Regions from separate parts of the Homo sapiens genome. Here region 1 is linked to region 2. Evidence: fine-mapped expression QTL. A gene starts in region 2. The other region holds a variant in brackets. All regions are shown on one strand. Distances are between the middles of the regions. Region 1 overlaps MIOS (meiosis regulator for oocyte development). Region 2 holds the start of MIOS (meiosis regulator for oocyte development).

Region 1 (9,695 bases), 40 kb after region 2:
AGCTGAAACTGGATCCCTTCCTTACACCTTATACAAAAATTAATTCAAGATGGATTAAAGACTTAAACGTTAGACCTAAAACCGTAAAAACCCTAGAAGAAAGGCAATACCATTCAGGACATAGGCATGGGCAAGGACTTCATGTCTAAAACACCAAAAGCAATGGCAACAAAAGCCAAAATTGACAAATGGGATCTAATTAAACTAAAGAGCTTCTGCACAGCAAAAGAAACTACCATCAGAGTGAACAGGCAACCTACAAAATGGGAGAAAATTTTTGCAACCTACTCATCTGACAAAGGGCTAATATCCAGAAGCTACAATGAACTGAAACAAATTTACAAGAAAAAAACAACCCCATCAAAAACTGGGCAAAGGATATGAACAGACACTTCTCAAAAGAAGACATTTATGCAGCCAAAAAACACGTGAAAAAATGTTCATCATCACTGGCCATCAGAGAAATGCAAATCAAAACCACAATGAGATACCATCTCACACCAGTTAGAATGGCGATCATTAAAAAGTCAGGAAACAACAGGTGTTGGAGAGGATGTGAAGAAATAGGAACACTTTTACACTGTTGGTGGGACTGTAAACTAGTTCAACCATTGTGGAAGTCAGTGTGGCGATTCCTCAGGGATCTAGAACTAGAAATACCATTTGACCCAGCCATTCTATTACTGGGTATATACCCAAAGGATTATAAATCATGCTGCTATAAAGACACATGCACACGTATGTTTATTGCAGCACTATTCACAATAGCAAAGACTTGGAACCAAGCCAGATATCCAACAATGATAGACTGGATTAAGAAAATGTGGCACATATACACCATGGAATACTATGCAGCCATAAAAAATGATGAGTTCATGTCCTTTGTAGGGACATGGATGAAGCTGGAAACCATCATTCTCAGCAAACTATCGCAAGGACAAAAATCCAAACACCGCATGTTCTCACTGACAGGCGGGAATTGAACAATTTGAGAACACATGGACACAGTAAGGGGAACATTACACATCGGGGACTGTTGTGGGGTGCGGGGAAGGGGGAGGGATAGCATTAGGAGATATACCTAATGCTAAATGACGAGTTAATGGGTGGAGCACACCAACATGGCACATGTATACATATATAACAAACCTGCACGTTGTGCACATGTACCCTAAAACTTTAATAATAATAAAATTTAAAAAAAAATAAAGTGCTGGCTAGTGGCTCGAGTATCTAAACCTCCCTGGTGCTTTGCCTGCAATCAGAGATTGCATCCATCCATCATGCTTTGTGATTCAAATAGCTGGAATTTCTATAAGCTTATTTAACTGAGAGTTGATATTTTTATACTCAATTGTGCTTTGAAGATTAGAAATCTGTTGAAACAGTTCTAACATCATTATAAACATTATAAATATTATTTATTCAACAAATGTTTATTTGGTACCTATTGTTCCAAGTGCTAGAAATGTTACAGTAAAGAAGACAAAAATCGCTGCCCTTACAGAATTTAACTTCTGGACAATGACACATTTTTTAAAAGTTAGATTATCTACTGGTTTCCTTCATTTTCTTCTTACATTATGAGTTAATGCATAAGTGAAACTCTAGTTTCGCCTAAAGTGTTCTGTGGCACTTGTCTTCATAATTCACTATAAATCTTTTAAAATTTGAAGTCATTTGATCTTAAGCCTTTATACTTGGCAGTGAGATAGACCTTAATACTTCCAGTTTCGTCAGAAAAATATAAGGATATGCCTTGTTCTGATTCAGTCTGTTATCTGTTTATGTTAGAAGTTACAAAAACAAAGTGACAAGCACTAATGAGAGCTTTACACAAAGGTGTAAAGTAGTGTACATATCAGATCTATATTTTATTTATCTCTTCCCCCTTTCCTTTTTGCCCTCTCATTATTAATTGTTGGTGACCCTTTCAGGAGTAATTCTAGTGTGTTTACATCTTTAATCATTGAATTACTTACACATCCTTTCACCTCATATCATTAGCAAAAACGGATATTTTTTAAAACTATTCCCGACTGCAAGATTATCCTTTTGGTCATGAAAGCGTGACCTGCAATGGTCCAAGCAAAATTTTTAACATAGTTATCGATGCATAATGTCTTTATAGATAGCAATTAAGTAAAAATATTAAGTCTAATTAAGCAATTGTTTAAGTTACACAAGTCTCATGAAGTGCATTGGGAAACTTTCTGCTTTTTCTCTTCTTTGAAAGGGCTTGTACAGATGAGAATTACCTGTCCCTTGATAGATTTTTTTTTTTTTTTGAGACAAAGTCTTGCTCCATCACCCAGCCTGGAGTGCAGCAGTGCAATCTCGGCTCCCTGCAGCCTCCAATCCCCAGATTTAAGCAATTCTTGTGCCTCAGCCTCCCAAGTAGGTGGGACTACAGGCATGTGTCACCACCCCCGGCCAATTTTTGTATTTTTAACAGAGACGGAGTTTCACCATGTTGGCCAGACTGGTCGTGAACTCCTAGCCTCAAGTGGTCTGCCCGCCTCAGCCTCCCAAAGTGCTGGGATTACAGGCATGAGCCATCACACCCAGCCCTACCTGTTCCTTGAATGTTAAGTAAAATTCACTTGTAAACTGGGCCTGGTATTTTCCTTGTGGAAAGATTTTAAACTACTGATTTGGTCTCTCCAAAGTTTTAAATTTAGATTGTTTCTTAGTGGGTTTGGATTTTTTTTTCCATTTTTATATTGGCTATTAAAAATGTAGGGGAGCTTCTGTCATTCAGTTTCGCTTCATCTAAACTAGAACCTACCATCAAAATTGCTATTTCAATATGATGTGTGATTCATATTTGGAACACAGTTTTAGAAATGCTTTTTGAAAGTAACTTTAAATAAAATATTATGATATAGTTAATGAAGATCATTTTATTTTGTCATAGGAGGAACCAAATCAGATGAAAAAGTGGACTTGAGCAAGGACAAAAAATTAGCCCAATTTAACAACTGGTTTACATGGTGTCATAATTGCAGGCACGGTGGACATGCTGGACATATGCTTAGTTGGTTCAGGTAATCAGCACATTTCTTCTTTGATAGGCTTGGAGTTATGGGGGATAACACAGATTGCTTCTAAATAGTTTGGGTTTATCTATTAGCATTTAGCCAAAGTATGAATTTTATTTTTTACTGTCACTCATGTTAACAAAGGTGGTGTGAACATGTCGTGATTAGATATCCTATGTAACCTTAAACTATAAAGGTAATACTTATGTAAGAACTAATTTAAATGTTTTGTATGAGTTAAATGTTTGAATAACATTATTTAACTTTATTCGGGGAGAGGATATGTTTACAGTTTTTACACTGAATATTCTGTAATTTACCATGCAATTGAATTACTAATGAAATGTTAAAAGAGCATATCATACCTCTGCCTCAGTTCTCTTCTAAGTAAGCTTTTTATGTAGTCACGCAATTAAGACTGTCAAGACATATTTGAATTTCATTTTGAATGGTGCCAGTGGCCCTGTGCTCCTGGTTGATACAGCATTTATACCCAGTTTGTCTTACTAGCTAATTTAAACTCTGAGCACATCCCTGTCACCTTCACAACTATAAATGAAATATCTTGCCATATATGTAGAAAGTAAAAGGTATGTGTTTCTTAACTTCTCCCTAAACTTCAGCTTGGCAGTAGTTTATAATTTGATGCTTTTGATGCTTTTTTTCTCTGGGTTTTAGTTTCTATATTTTTCCAAATGCCATTTTGAAAAGTTGCATTATAGATAGATATAAGTAAACAGGTGGGCACAGTGGTGCACACCTGTAGTCCCAGCTACTCAGGAGGCTGAGGCAGGAGGATCACTTGAGCCCAAAAGTGTGCGTACAGCCTGGGAAATATAGGGAGACCCTGTCTCTTAAAAAATAAATAAATAAATAAATGTATGTCTGTCTAATTTGGATTTTTAACTGTTATTTGACCTATTTTTTTAGGGACCATGCAGAGTGCCCTGTGTCGGCATGCACGTGTAAATGTATGCAGTTGGATACAAC[A/G]GGGAATCTGGTACCTGCAGAGACTGTCCAGCCATAAAATGTTACCACCTTAAGAGAACCCTTCAAGTGTGGAGCTTTCTAGTAGGTGTCCTTCATAGCTCAGAAACATACCTCAGAACAAGCCATTCATGACTTACCTGTAATGGGAAAATAAATCATTCTATCAGATCAGCAGTTTTGATGTTTGAGTGATTTTGATATGCTTCACAGAGACAAATGCTGCCAAAATAAACATCGAAGTATAGACATGAGTTCTGTTCAGCAGGTTGAAAAGTCTGATTTAGAAAAACTTTCTAAGTTTTGGTTGAAATTATGAACACTCTAGAAGCAGAATTTCTGGAAGAGCCAAGAACAGACTTTGAGCCTATATCTTCAAAGCTGAAACTGGATATCTTTCAATAAAATATGTGCACTTTTAAAATAAAATGACTAATTCTGTGATTCAGACAATAGTTTTAAGTTCAGCTGTGCTTAGATTTCTTTCAGATTAATTTAAAATTACAGATTTTTACTTTTAGAATTGCAGAGCCCCTATCCCACACTGGAGAATATTTTTTATTACTGTCTGTTATATATGTGTCTATGTGTGTGTGTATATTTATGTGTGTATGTATAAATATGTATTTTTTAAAGGAGCCTTTTCCCTCCTTTGATTTTAAGATAAGCAATCTTTTGGCATAACATTATCGTCTTCCTAGAAAAGCCAAGATGAAGAATCTATCTTACAACTTTTTCTCTTCAGTAGAGAAAAACATGTACCATTTCAGGTGAACATACAAAATTTTCACTTTCTACCTTTTGCCTTCCAATGTCCTGATTTGTCTTCAAAGGTTTTTCTCCATATTAATTTGTCATCTTATCCTCATCACCTGAGAACATTTTACTGCATACAAAGTCTATGCAAGATTATATGTAACTAGCCATTTAGTATAATCTATGTCAGTGTTTCTGTGCTGTCAAATTCCGTCCTGATTTGGAATACCATACCTTGTTCTTTCCAAGGTAGACTAGGAAGTGTTGGGGAAATGGGGTCACTTCAGAGACCATTTTAGATGTAAGTTTTTAAATGTAAGTGTTACTGGGGCTAAGTCAGGTACTTTATTTAAAACATTTTTTTTTCTCATTTCATAGCTAGATAGTTGTAAGAGAAATACAAAGAATTTACAAGATGCTTCTCTGTCATCTGCCATATGCAGAGGGACTGAACTAGGAATTTTGTAGTTGAAGCTGTGTTCATAAAGAGTAAATCTTATTTTATAGATTTTGGAGAAATAAAACAAGAATTTTAAGAGCTTTCGTATTAGCAGTTTTGCCTTATAAAAACTAAGATTTGTCAGATTAGTTTGAGGTGTAACCTAAATATTAAAAGTAGATTAAATTTATTTTTTACCTTGAGTGTCTGATACATAAAACCCTTTTCTAGGAAAACATTGGAAGTAGTACATATTTACTCTAAATGTCTCACCTGCATGACAGTCTTTTCAAATGAAAGACATGGTAATTGCAATTTTTTTTTAAAGATTGCTATTAAGGGTACTTTTTCCAGCCTTCATTTGAGTAAATCTTAATTGATTTCATTTTATTAACATATACCCTTTACCTTTAATATTTCATTTGAAGTGTTCCTTTCAAACTTACTGTCTTAAATATGAAAGTCAGCTTTAAGTAATGTCAGACTCATATGCATTTTCATTCTCATTAGCTAAAGTAAAATGTAAAATTATCTCAAATAGTTACAAGTTTTGGAAATACAGTATAAAACATGAATGTAAAGTCTATTATGTAATATGCTTATTTGTAATCCTAATATATGAGGGTGACATTTTTAAGATTGTATGTATGTGTCAACCTCTTAAATGTTTTCTGTGAAGCCCAAACATGCAGTTTATGTCTCTGGTGTCTGTTTTGCATTTCAGTGTGCATGGACAATCAAATTATTTTCTCATTTTTATCACTAAGTCACTGGTATTTGGGTTTATAAACTCAACAAGATACTTTACCTAAACATGATCAATAGATGTGTTTATTAAAAGTGTTTTTATTATTTTTAAAAGATTGAATAAATCTGGGTTGAAGTCATTGTATCTAATCAAGAAATTATGATTCCTTTACAAATAATCCACGTGAAGTAATATTGGTGCTTTTTTTGATGACAGACTTCATACTTAATATTAGAAGTAACATTCCTTTTAGGCTCTGTTTTTCAATTCAACCCACTTTCCAGAATAGTTATTATCCTTTAAAATGGTATATTTTAAAAGTAGCTTCCCATTGTCAATGCTTCACATAGTAAGTATTTAAAAGAATGTAGTTCTTCATTTAATTAGATGACTCAATTTCAGTCATTCATTTGACTGCAAGTAGTTAAAGCATGGTCTTTGAAACATAAATTATAATCCTAGCCTCGGGATCTTCGGTAAGTGACTTGACCTTTTTGAGCTTCAGTTTCTTCATATGTTAAAAGAAAGATACAGAAATACCTACCTCAGAGTGTGGGAGTATTAGGTGATGCAATAAACATGAAGTGCCATATCCCTGTCACATGGTGCTCTATAAATGGTAGTGATTAGCAGTCATTGTTACCTTCATTTTCATAGATTGCTCATGTATCAGTACTTTTTCAATGAATACTTATAGTATAATTTTAATTATAGTTAAAATTATAAGTATAATGAATACTTATAATTTTAACGAATCTACATTTGTCTCAAGAATGAAAATTTCCTTGGTGTGAGTTAGCTGAAATAGATTTTCTTAAAAAGAGTGAAAATTCCCAATAATAGTTATACTCCAAATATAGGGTAAACAAAAGTAGCTAAGTCCTGTCTCAAAAGAAAAATGCCATAATTTGGATAAATTTATAGTATTACTGTTTTTGCTGCATGCAAAAATCCTCCAAATGACCTCCTAAGAGTTAAATGTGATATAAAAATGAACCCAGAGGAAAAAATTATGGCAAATTTAACAACTGACTATTGAAAACTTTAAGTTTTATGTCTAAACTCTTAATTTAACTACGTTTAAATTGAACTCCCTAATCTGGATACTTGGAGAAAGTATCCAGGATTATTCTGTGTACTTTTTCTTTTTCTGCCATTCTATTACACTTGATGTTCATTTAAATTATAATGTTGGGGTGGTAGTGATAATTTCAAAAGTATACTGTGAGACTTGCTGTCCCGGAATAGCCGTAATTAAAGCTAGTGGGCACAATTTCTGACATCTGCTCAGACAGGCATCAGAGAGGTAGGAGGCACATATTTGGGTCAATATCTTGTATCAAGTCTAGTGACCCACATCACAATGACAGAAACAGGCCTTGTTAGATAGCAGCTCCCCTGTCCACTACTCACTCCTTCCATTACATCATCTGCCAGTTTTCTCTCCTACCTGAAAATGTTGTAGGTTACTTTGTTGATTATAACAAGTAGCACTTTACAAATATATTAATTTTTATAAAATACTACTTTTCCCAGAGTACAGCGACAGAAGGAAAGCTTCCCAAGGTTTTTAAAAGCTAACAACCCAGATATCAAATTAACACAACTTTAACATGATAAAGTCACAAGTAAAATTAGCATCAAATGCAGCAGTATATAAATTACTGTTAATGCCTTTTATGTGCCAGGTGCCAAGCGCATTATCCTGTTTTCGCCATAAACCTATGAGGCAGTTATGCCATTATTGTCCCCGTTCTGTAAAGGAGGCAACTCAGGCATAGGGACATCAGGTCACTTGTCCTAGGTTACATGAGTAGCAAATACAGCCAAGACTTAGATTCCAGTAGTCTTGACCTGCTAATCTGCCCTTTTAATTTCTGTTTTCTGCTTCTGTGTACTACTTTGTAGGTTATATACGTAAGAGAATGATTCACTACGACAAAGAAGGGTTTATTCCAAGAATTAAGTACTGGGTAATATTTTAATTATATTTAGTATTAATATACCAAAAGAGAAGAACCACAAAGAGCTTGATAAAATTCAAAAATTGATCTCTTAATTTGTTTTTGAGGTCAGTTTTTATGCAAAGGAAATGTTTTCTCTCCATTTTCTCCCCTCCTGTTTTACTGTCTCATACATCATGATGCCTATTAGAGAAATACTAGAATCCTTCTCACTATAGACAGGAATAAGAAGTGGATGCTGTTGTCACTGGTTCTGCACATGGCAATGAAAAAGAAGAAAGCGAAAGGCACACCTTTGCTTCTTTTCCAAGTCATCAAAATTTGATATGGCAAAAATCATAGTTACAAGGCAAACAAATTGATAAACTACAACATTTATGACAAATTGCCTTAATTCAGAAAGGACATTTTCAAAGCCGAGGAAAAAACAATCAGTAGATAATATCAATCAAAGACTTGTGCAAGCAAAATAGAACTGCTGACAAATAAATGCTAAATCAGTAACATGCTGATTAAAAAGTAGAATACTGTTCGCCTGACTGCATAGATTTAAAATAATAGGCATTTTCATGGATGTGGGAAGGAAACATTCTGAGATAACAGCTTATGAGAGTTTAAGTCTTGAGGACAGGTAAACTGTATTAATCAGAAGCCGTAAAGAGTTTCATACCCTTTGACATAGTATGCTGGGAATATTTTCTGAGGGATTGATTGCATAAGTGCACAAAGATGTATATTTTTATGATACGGTTCTACACAGTATTGTTTATAATAAAAACTTGGAAACCTAAATGTCCAATAATAGAAAAGAATAAATTATTGTATATACATACAGTGGGTTACTAAGAAATGATTCAATTAGTATAGATATTTTCATTGACAAAGGTTTCTTAATATATTGGTAAGTGAAAGGGAAGTTTTAGGATAGTATATCTAGCATATAAATATATTTGTTTGGGATATGGTTAATACAGAAACTTTAACAGTGGCCATCTTTAAAGAGTGGAATTTTGAGTAACATTTTCTTCATATCTATCTTTCATTTTTCCCAATAATAATGAATATATAAATGTACATGCATCTCTCTGTCTCACTCTGTCTCTCGCGCACACACACACATACACACCATATATGTATATACTGGCTTTTAGAAAAGTTATCCATGACCTTGTATCTTGTTATTAAACACAGTGAAACAATCATATGTTAGGATTTATTCTATGCGGTGAAAAAACAGGCTACAAGATGTTATGAAAATTTGGATTGAGATCTAATTGTTCAGAAAGCATTTTCTAGATTTCTTACTCTACACTAGTAATATACAAGAATAACAAGATATAGTCCTCTCAATTCTTCATTACATTTGGAAGTAGTGCATTATGTTCTCCACTTAGCGTATTGGGAAATGAATATGTAAAATAATTCTGATTTCCCTGAGCTTAGTGGTACATGATTAATAACTTCATTTCAATATTTTTTCTCCTATATCTTCGTCATGAGATTTCCTGACTCCTCTTTTTTGGCTCTGGGTCTGTGGTGGGAAAGCTGTCCTCCTCTATGTACTGAATTTATGTGATTATTGTCCAGTCTAATCTGGCATGCACTTTGCTCAATTCATTTCCAATAATAGCAGGTTATTTAGGTTTAAGTGATGAATTCTGAACATGCCTGTGTGTCTTTGCTTCACCAAAACACAGAACCATACCTACGTGTGCTGGACAGTGTTAAAGGTTCTGATGTTAAAGGATTGATGGCACCAT
Region 2 (9,695 bases):
AAATGCATGAAGAAATGCATTGATTTAAAAAATTTATTTGGGGATATTCTAGAAAAGTTTTTGAAGGCCATTATTTTAAGATATCTCTGATCTTCTGATCTTCAACCTATGTGAAAAGATTACCTAAGCCATGGCACATGTTTACAGGGCTTCATTTCAGCTTGATACCTGCCCAGCCTCCATCTAAAAGCAAAACTTGCTCTCAGGTACAGACTGATTTTGTGCATGTGGAAATAAAAAGAATTGGGATTAGCCAGTCACAGACTTCACAAAATGTTCCAGTACTGTAGTAACTGAATTGCTGCCAGGAGCAGCTGTAAATAAGAAAGAAATTCGCTGTCCTTCAACTGCAATCCTTCTGGTTTTAAAACCACAACAAAAATCCTCTCCTGGATCACCACAACATAAATGAAGAATCTTAAAAAGAACATCCTGGCCAAGCGCAGTGGCTCATGCCTGTAATCCCAGCACTTTGGGAGGATGAGGCAGGCAGATCACTTGAGGTCAGGAGTTCGAGACCAGCCTGGCCAACATGGTGAAATCCCATCTCTACTGAAAATATAAAAATTAGCCAGGCATGGTGGCGCATGCCTGTAATCCCAGCTACTCAGGAGGCTGAGGCAGGAGAATCACTTGAACCTGGGAGGCAGTGATTGTGGTGAGTTGAGACTACACCACAGCACTCCAGCCTGGGCGACAGAGCGAGGCTCCATCTCAAAAAAACAACAATAAAAAAATCCTATTAGGAATACAAAAGCTTAAATTAAAAACAAACAAAATACCGAGACTGAACTACAGTGGCCCTAGGATCTATTGTAAAACGCATGTTTAGTAAAGGCAACTAGTGTAATCTCAGACCAGTCTGTCAAGTTCTCTGCTACGGTTTACTGTTTCCAAAGATACAAAGCACTCACTCAACTCAGTAAATATTTTTTGGATACCTATGCAACAGGTGCTAAGGGAAATCCAAAGTTCCATGCTAAAAGATTGCTACCTGCAAGGATCTTGGTTTAGTAGAGAAGGGGAATCAGTTTCCAAAAAGACTGAGAAAGGTGTCACTTATTCCTGTGAGGGGCTTTAGAAGAATTAGTGGCAATATGAAAAAATATATACTTTCACAAAGCTTGAGTGGAAAAGAAAGTTGAAAAAGGGACATTAGCTGGAGGAGGATGTAGAATAAATACGTTGTTTTAGGATTTATTCAATACATTTTTATTTACCACATTTATTAGGTACTGTTTTACATCCTGGTGATTAAGCAGAGAATAAAATAGACAGAGCCCCTCTGTTTTAATTAGGGAATTGGCTAAGCTGCTCTACCAGGTCCAAACAAACAATGATTTTTTAAAGAACAAAGTTTATTTTCTCTTGCATAATGGTCCAGAAGTCTGTGGTTGATCCAAGGGAGGAGGTGCCCCAGCTCCCTGAGATTAGTTTGGGACTTAGGCTAGTGAGAACAGCTTTGCCTTCCTTAATACATGGCTTCCATTTCCAGTCTGTATTTCTTTTTGCCATTTGCCAGACAGCAAGAAGAGGGAAGAGAAAGTGTATAGCAAGCAGCTTTCCTTTTAAGGGACATGATCCAGTTCTACTCACATCTTACAGGACATAACTTTTTGATATAGCCTTACCTTGCTGAAAGGGAGGCCAAGGAATGTCATGTCTAAGTAGGTCACCAAGTGCCCTGCTCAAATTTGAATGTAGAGTTATTTCCTCTTACTAAAAAGAAAAAAAATACAGAATGAAAACTGGAGATAAGGAGAAGACACAGTCTAGAAGATAACTATAGGAAAGTAAAGAGATGGCGACGTATGTGAAGTTGTGGTGTCATAAAGACAACAACAAAGGAGCTAATTTATAGGTAGTCAGTGACAAGTGAGCAGTCTTGAGTAAAGGGAGAGTATGAGTCATGTAGATTTCTGCATTCCAGACAGAGGGAATAGCTAGTGAAGAAGCCCTGAGGCAAGAGCATGCTTGTCATGTTTAAGGAACAGTGAAGTCACAGGGATAAAAGACAAACCAGAAGAAAGTGATGATATGCAACAAAGTGAATGAGACATGTCAAGAGAGGAAGTAGTCAAGAACAACAGAAGTTGCAAGAGTGAAGCTTTGGCCATTGAAACTGGCAGCATGGAGCTCACAGGTGACCTTGACAAGTGGCAGTTTCGTGGCATGGTGGGCATGAAGGACTGAATGGAGTGAATTCAAGGGAGAGAGGGGGAAGTGGAATTACAGAGAGCAAATATGATCCTCTCCTTTGAAGAGAAAATGGGAATAACTTGAGTATGTGTTGAAAGTAAAGAACCAGTAGAAATGGAGAGGCAAAGATACATGGAAGTGAAGTAATTGATGGTGCAAGGTCCCAGAAGAGGAGATATACATGGGGTTCCTCCTCTTACTCTTTGTCACCTAAAAGAAGGTAAGAATGGTAGTGAATCAAGATGTTGGAGGAGGGAAGGAGGAAGCAGTGGGAGGTTGTGCAAATTCTAGCTAATAGTTTTAATTTTCTTTTCTGAAGTAGGAGGCAGTGTCATCTCCTGAGTGCAAGCAGAAAAGTTGTCCTCAACTATGTATAGTAGGAGTGGATAAGGAAGAGATTTGTATTGATCTGAGGTTTTGTGTGGGGGTTTGAGGCCAGGGTCAAAACCACTGAGAAGATTGGCAAGATAGTGTTTGAAGTGATGAATACTGTCATGTCTCCTCTCAGTAATACAGCACTTTCTTCAGCCTACATTCTTCTAATGGCAGGATTGGAAAGGCAATACTTTCCCCAAACTCATCATCTTATCAAAACCATCTGCCACCAAGATCATCAGGACTAAGCTCATTATGCTGTTTACAGCCATCACCACCACAAGCCCAAGACCACCCACTTTTAATCATGAACAGACAAGCAAAGACTGTCAGACATCTGAAGACTGCCTCGAGGTCAGACTCGTGACACCTGAGGCAGCACCATTCACTCAGTTTTGGGAACAAAAAACTTGGAATCCTCTTTCACCGTCATTCACTTGGTCAGTCACCAAGCTCTGTTCATCCCGCCTTCTAAGTATTCCCCAGGGCCCCCACTTCTCTCCATGCCCACTCTCCGTGCCACTGGTAACCTGCGTTTCTATCATCCCTCATTCTGATACTCTATCCCTCCAGCTCTCTGCGCAAAAACTGATCATACTGGCCGGGCACAGTGGCTCATGCCTGTAATCCCAGCACTTTGGGAGACCGAGGTGGGCGCATCACGAGGTCAAGAAATGAGACCACCCTCGCCAACATGGTGAAACCCCATCTCTCCTAAAAATACAAAAAATTACCTGGGCGTGGTGGCGCGCGCCTGTAGTCCCAGCTACTCGAGGTGCTGAGGCAGGAGAATCGCTTGAACCCGGGAGGCGGAGGTTGCAGTGAGGAGAGATCGCGCCATTGCATTCCAGCCTGGCGATATAGCCAGACTCCGTCTCAAAAAAAACAAAACAAAACAAAAAACTGATCATACCACTTGCCTGATTAAAAACTTTCGATGACTCTAACATTGCCTTTAGGTAAATGCCATCCAAACTCACTAAACTGGTTTCCAACCCGTTTCTGAAAGCACCTTAATCTCTCCCCACTTCCTCTGCTCATTCATCCATACCTACTGCCTCCTCACTGCTATGTCCTCTCTCCTGACCCGGCACTTGCTCTTTCCCAGTCCTAGAAGGCTCTTCTCTTCCAGTTCCCACTGCCCTTTTCCCTTTCCTGGCTAATCCCATACTCATCCTTCTTGTCTCAACCTAGTGGTCCTTAAGGAAGCTTTGCTGACCCCCGACACCGAGCGGGCGTCCCTCCTGTGTAGCACTGTGTTAGCCCTACCAAGTCAAGGCTCTCCTTGCCTGTTTCCTGCCGGAACCATGTCTTTTTACTTCACTCCTGTCTCCTCAGCATTCCAGCACAGTGCTGGGTACATAACAGGTGCTCAAGACAAGTTTGTGGAATGACTAATGAGTGAATAAATCATTAACCAAACACCTTGGATCTCCTACTACATCATTTGCAAAAAAAAAAAAATGTTTAATAGAAATTAAAATGGACCCAGTGAGCTAGAGTGTGTGACCCTGCTTAAAAACGACAGAGTGGTTCTGAGAAGCAGTCCCAGCCTAGGAACCCGGGGATCCGGCCTGTGGACCCACGGGCAGGGCCTGCGGGGTGCACCGGCGCTTTCGGGCGGAAGGCGGGGCCTCCCGGCCAGTGACCCCGCCCCGAGGCGCCTCCCGGGCGGGGAAGGGCGGGGCTCGCGCTGGGAAACTCCCCTTCCAAGGCCGAGGCGCCGCTGCGCGTCCTCCAGGCGTGGTGGTGGGGTCGTGGGTCCCAGCCCAGTGGTCCAGGTCACGGGCCGCACGGCCGCGGCCGCCATCTTGCCCGCGTCCGGGCTCCTGCGGCGGGCGGGGCGGTGTCCCGGCCGGAAGCGGCTGTGCGGCGGCCGCGCTGCCACCTCAGGTCAGTGAGCGCGACCCGGTTCGCGTCTCGACTCTCGGGAGCGCCGCGGCCGCAGCGAGGGGCCGGAGATAGCCTAGTTGAAAGGCCCGGGCGTCTCGGCGGGGAGCGCGTTCCGCGCTGTAGGGTAATCGCGCCGGGCGGCCGGCCGCCTGGCCGGGCCTCAGCGGGAGCCACCGGGGGCTGCGGGCGGCCGTGGGACCTGCGGAGACCTCCTCGGGGCGCAGGGAACACGCTACAGCCTTCGCCGCGGCGGGCTTGTGGGGAGCGGCGTCCCAGCCTTTCCCGGGAGGCTCAGCCAGGTGCCTGGAGCGGGAGAGTCGGACTCAGATTCCTGCTTTACCTAGAATAGCAACGTGCCCTGTTCCCGTTGTACCCTCTTAAATACTATACTTCTTAAACGGCCTGTCTCCCGGTGAGCTCTGTTCTCTTCTCATATGAGTAATGAAAATTAAGAGGATGAATGAAACCTCACACATGTTGTGGACTTTGCTGAATAGGTTAGCAAATGACTGCAGGCCTTTTGTATATTTTAAGGGAAATTTGGATATGTGCAGTGCATCTCCTCGAAGATGCTGATGGTGGAAATTTCTTGAAACCGCTCTCGTAATTTGCCACGGTAAGAAAAGTAAAAGACAACATCAAAAAGCATGTGGTTGGATCCTTTGTACACTGAGTAGTATTTTAATGTGTTGGACTTCACTGTCCAGTAGCCACATGGGATTGAGATGTGCTATAAGTGTAAAATACACATCGGATTTCCCAGAGTTGGTGCCAAAAAAACGTAAAAATCCTCAATAATTTTTGCATTGATTACATATTGAAAGGATAATGCTGTTGATATGTTGGCTAAATAAAATGTGTTTTTAAATTTCATTCCACCTAATTTTACTTTTTAAATGTGGCTACTAGAAATTTTTAAATCATATGGCTCACACTGTATTTCTTTTGGACAGTGCTGTTGCAAATATTCTGGTGAATGAACACAGAATCAGCATGGCTTTCCTTTGCTGAGAAATCACTGATGGGAAGTGAGACTTGTTAAACTTGAAAGGTGAGGATATAAATACAAGCTGTAATTATTGCAGACCGCACCCCTTCTACACCTAATTTTTTAATGTCTCCAAAATTTGGAAAAAACATTAACTTTCAGGGCTGATTAAGGGAATGGTAGTAATACTAACATCTGTGTGATGTGAAGAGCTCATTTCAGTTGATTGTCACAGCTTTGTGAGATGGAAATGGGATAGATTTTATCTCGGTTTTATGGTTTTGGAGTATTACAAGATTTGTTAGGATCTGAGCTGGGGAGTGGCTGTAGGATTTCTGACTCTAGATTGTTTTCTTTACACCAGATTCTTGGTGATGTATGTTCATGAGCAAGGAACTGTTTATCCTGTATATTACATGGTGAAAAAAAATACACTTCTTAAAAGGGTGGACATAGATGCACCTCTCTATACAGGGCTACTCTTATGATGTGCAACCTGTGCAGTAGCACAGAGCCCAGCATTTAGAATGGCTAGCACTTAGTTTAATGGCCAGTCTGCTGTCACTGTCTGGACATTGTAAATAATTTTTAAATGAGGGGCCCTGCATTGTTATTTTGCACCACGTCCTGCATATCGTGTAGCTGATCCTTTTCTTTGCAGTAATCTAGGACGGAAGTTGAGAGACCTTGGATAACCACCCAAACATCTGGTCTTCACTTTACTCCTTTGTGAAATTAGAAGATTTAGCTAGTCTTTTTCTCTCAAGTTTTGATTCTGTATGAATTACTGTCATCAGATTTTGTGGATGGCAATAGAAGTATTTTAGGTGCATAACATGGGAAGAAATGCTGATATTCTCCGTTGAGAGTCATGTAAATCAAAGTTTTAAATTTTATGCTAAAACTCGTATTTTATGTTTTGTAAGATGGATTTTTCTTTGTGGCATCAAGATTGCTTACCATAGACCATTGGTATAAAGAGTCGGGTTGTGGAATGAAAGCCTAGATAAAAAGTGTGTTTATTTAAACATTGATTTTTCAATGAGATGGGAAAATGGCCCAGATCTCATGATGTCTCCAATTAAGAGATTTCCTTTGTGGGGGTATGAGTATGAACCCTTATTTGGCAGTATCTGTTCCTCTTTGCTGTCGTAGCTGCTTCCTGTTACGTGAGGTGCCCCTCTTCCTCCTCATTCTTAAATTTTGAAACTCTTTTTAAGGTTGGACTTAATTTTATCACTACAGTGCAGGTTTTTTTTAGACCAGAGACTTCATCGGCTCATGTTTGCTGCTGTGTTCCCAGCTTCATAACCATGCCTAGAACATAGAAGGTGCCCAATCAATAGTCACAGAATAAATGAAAGTATAATAGCAGACATTTAAATCTTGGCCGGAGCCAGCCTCTCCTAGGGAGCGTAGAAGTGGAAGCATGAGGAAATAGGTAAAACTTGGAGATAGCAGTTGTGAGAAGTGTCAGAGGGATCATTCAGCACATGCATTTATTTAACAAATGTTTATTAACTTCCTACTAAGTGCCTAGCACTGTACTGGGGACTAGAGGTACAATGGAACACCAAAAATACTTCACCTGCTCTCATGGAGTGTATAATCCAGTAGAAGAGACAGAGATGGATGATTAAAGGGAAAGAATACTGTTTAATGACAGTGTATGTCTGAGTAACCAGACCTCGACTAGGGAGGGGATGGAGGGTGGTTGACGTCAAGGTTGAGCAGGTATTAACTTGGCCCAGAAGACAGGGAACTGTGCTCTAACCAGAGGAAACATCATTTGCAAAGGTATGGTGATGAGGGAGGAGGGTATATACTCTAGGAAGTGGAAAGGACAGTGTAAAAGGACAGCAAGAATGTTGTGCCACAAGGCCGGTGCAGTAGGCAGAGACCAAAAGCATTTAGGGTTTTGTAGGTTATACTAAGAGCAGCTGAAGACCATTAGAGGGTTTTAAGCAAGGAAGGATAGCCTGGTCAAGGTTGTGTTGTAGAAAGATTTTTACTCTGGTATTCTATAAAGCAAAATTTCTGAAGGACCAGGGGAAAGATGAATAAAAGAAAAGCCTCCAGCACCACACACCAGATATGTTGTATACCTTAATTTACTGAAATCAGTTTTCAGAGGCTTGAGACTATCCTCTGTGTGGTAGCACTTGGAAGCCTGAGTGAGGAGACAAGATGATAAATAATTGGGTTGATCTAGGACTGGGGAAAGGCAAACCCAAAGTGGCAAGGAAATGAAGACATTGAGGGTGCTAGTAAGAATATTGAAATGATTGATCTTGGGCTTGAGAAATGCTAAAGAAGGAAATAAAACCAGTATAAGAATTCCTAAATCAGTGGTCCCCAACCTTTTTGGCACCAGGGACCAGTTTCATGGAAGACAATTTTCTCACGGATGAGGGGTGGGGGTGTGGTTTCAGGATGATTCAAGCGCATTACATTTATTGTGCACTTTATTTCTATTTACATTGTACTATACAATGAAATAATTATACAACTCACCGTAATGTAGAATCAGTGGGAGCCCTGAGCTTGTTTTCCTGCAACTAGATGGTCCCATATGGGAGTGATAGGAGACAGTGACAGATCATCAGGCATTAGATTCTCACAAGGAATGCACAACCTAGATCCCTCTCTTGCACAGTTCACAATAGGGTTTGCACTCCTGTGAGAAACTAATGCTGCTATTGATCTGACAGGAGGCGGAGCTCAGGCAGCAGTGTGTGAGATGAGTGGCTGTAAATAACAGATGACGCTTAGCTCCCTTGCCTGCTGCTCACCTCCTGCTGTGTGGCCTGGTTCCTAACAGGCCAGGGAGCAGAACTGGTCTGCGGCCCTGGGAGTTGGGGACCCCTGGTCTAAATTATATGAGTCTATGAAGTTTTAGACTGGTAATTCCCAACTGAAACTTTTGCAAGATCAAAAAGAAAAGCAATTATGTTTGAGTTGAACTATTTAGTGTATCCTTATTAGGAGTCTATGCCAGGCTCTATATATGGCACTAAGGATAGAGAGGTAAGTGAACCATAGCTTTACCTTATGAGAACTGACAACAGAGTTGTACAGATGCCAATTGCAATGAAGATTTTAAGTATGTTCATTCTTTTTGAATCTATTACCTTTTGCCAGCCTCTGTTAGAAACAGGCATTTAAATTTTTGTAGGCAACCTTAATTATTGAAACACCATTTTTAACTATAGCTATATTTAGTTCGTGTGCTTCTACTGCTAGAATATTTATTTTTTTCAAAAATTCTACTTTAACACTTATTCAAAGTTTGTAGAAGCGAAAACTGAAAGAGCCTCTAATGATCACTTAATCCACTTTCTCAGAGTGTGGTATGTGTGTACCACTGGTCATAAACAGGATGCTTTGTAGATAAAACACAATCAAGCCTTTTTAATAGTTATATATTTCAGTGTAGGTTAAAAATATATTTAGCATAGCATACCATGATTCATGGACCTTATGAAGAGATTAAAGTCAATTTTCAGATTTTAAAAATGAGTCAGTTTAAAGAAAAATATTAATGGCATAGGTGTTACATGACTGAAGTTTGGGAAATACTAATCTAAACCAGCTCCTACATTGTGTAGATGAGAAAACAAAGGGGTTCCCCACACACAATGACTTTTCTGAGGCATATAACTAATATACGGCAGAGCTAGGACTAGAACTCAGGTTCGTTCAGTACATTCCAGTGTTTATTCTGCCATACAAGGCTGATGCTTATTACTAAAGTTGAAGAAACCGCTGTCTTAGTATGACATTGTACTTTAAATCTCCATTGTTCATTACGATGACCACATATGGTTATTTATATTAAAATTTGTTAAAATTAAGGTTTAAAATTTGAATTAGTCACATTTCTAGTGCTCAGTAGCTACATGTGGCTAGTGGCTACCATATTGGACAGCATGAACATGAAACATTTCTGTCATTGCAGAAAGTTTTATTGGGCAGTGCTGCTTTAAACTATTGCTTAGGAATATGATTCATAAGTTTTCCCCCCTTCAAAGGGATAATACTTATTAATTTGCTTACCACACTGAAGTTGTTATAACTCTGAAGTTAAGCTGAAGGTACTAGTAACAGTGCAATTAAGATAATTGATCATGGGAAATATAGCCAGGATGGGATTCTCAGATTCCTACCAGCTCATTTTATTGGAAGTGGTTGTTCTTTCTCCTTTTTTTTCAATAAATATTTTCTTGAATTCATAGCAGAT

Evidence for each region. PIP is the estimated chance that this variant, and not a neighbour inherited with it, causes the effect.
Region 1: its variant is fine-mapped to the expression of MIOS in CD4 T cells (Kasela 2017, PIP 0.95).

Annotation. Positions count from the first base shown.
Region 1 is chr7:7,603,025-7,612,719 of GRCh38, forward strand. MIOS (meiosis regulator for oocyte development) reads left to right here. Exons shown (of 13, transcript NM_019005.4): 12 at 2,918-3,047; 13 at 3,972-5,908. The coding sequence ends at 4,068. Among named protein-coding and RNA genes, the nearest start is that of UMAD1, 33 kb to the right of the region's middle. The variant A/G (reference allele first, on the strand shown) is at 4,032.
Region 2 is chr7:7,562,606-7,572,300 of GRCh38, forward strand. It overlaps MIOS (meiosis regulator for oocyte development), which reads left to right and starts at 4,279. Exons shown (of 13, transcript NM_019005.4): 1 at 4,279-4,467; 2 at 5,002-5,083; 3 at 5,421-5,518. It overlaps MIOS-DT (MIOS divergent transcript), which reads right to left and starts at 3,460. Exons shown (of 5, transcript NR_110084.1): 1 at 3,309-3,460; 2 at 1,632-1,719. RefSeq lists a silencer at 4,100-4,749 and enhancers at 5,000-5,069, 6,647-6,706.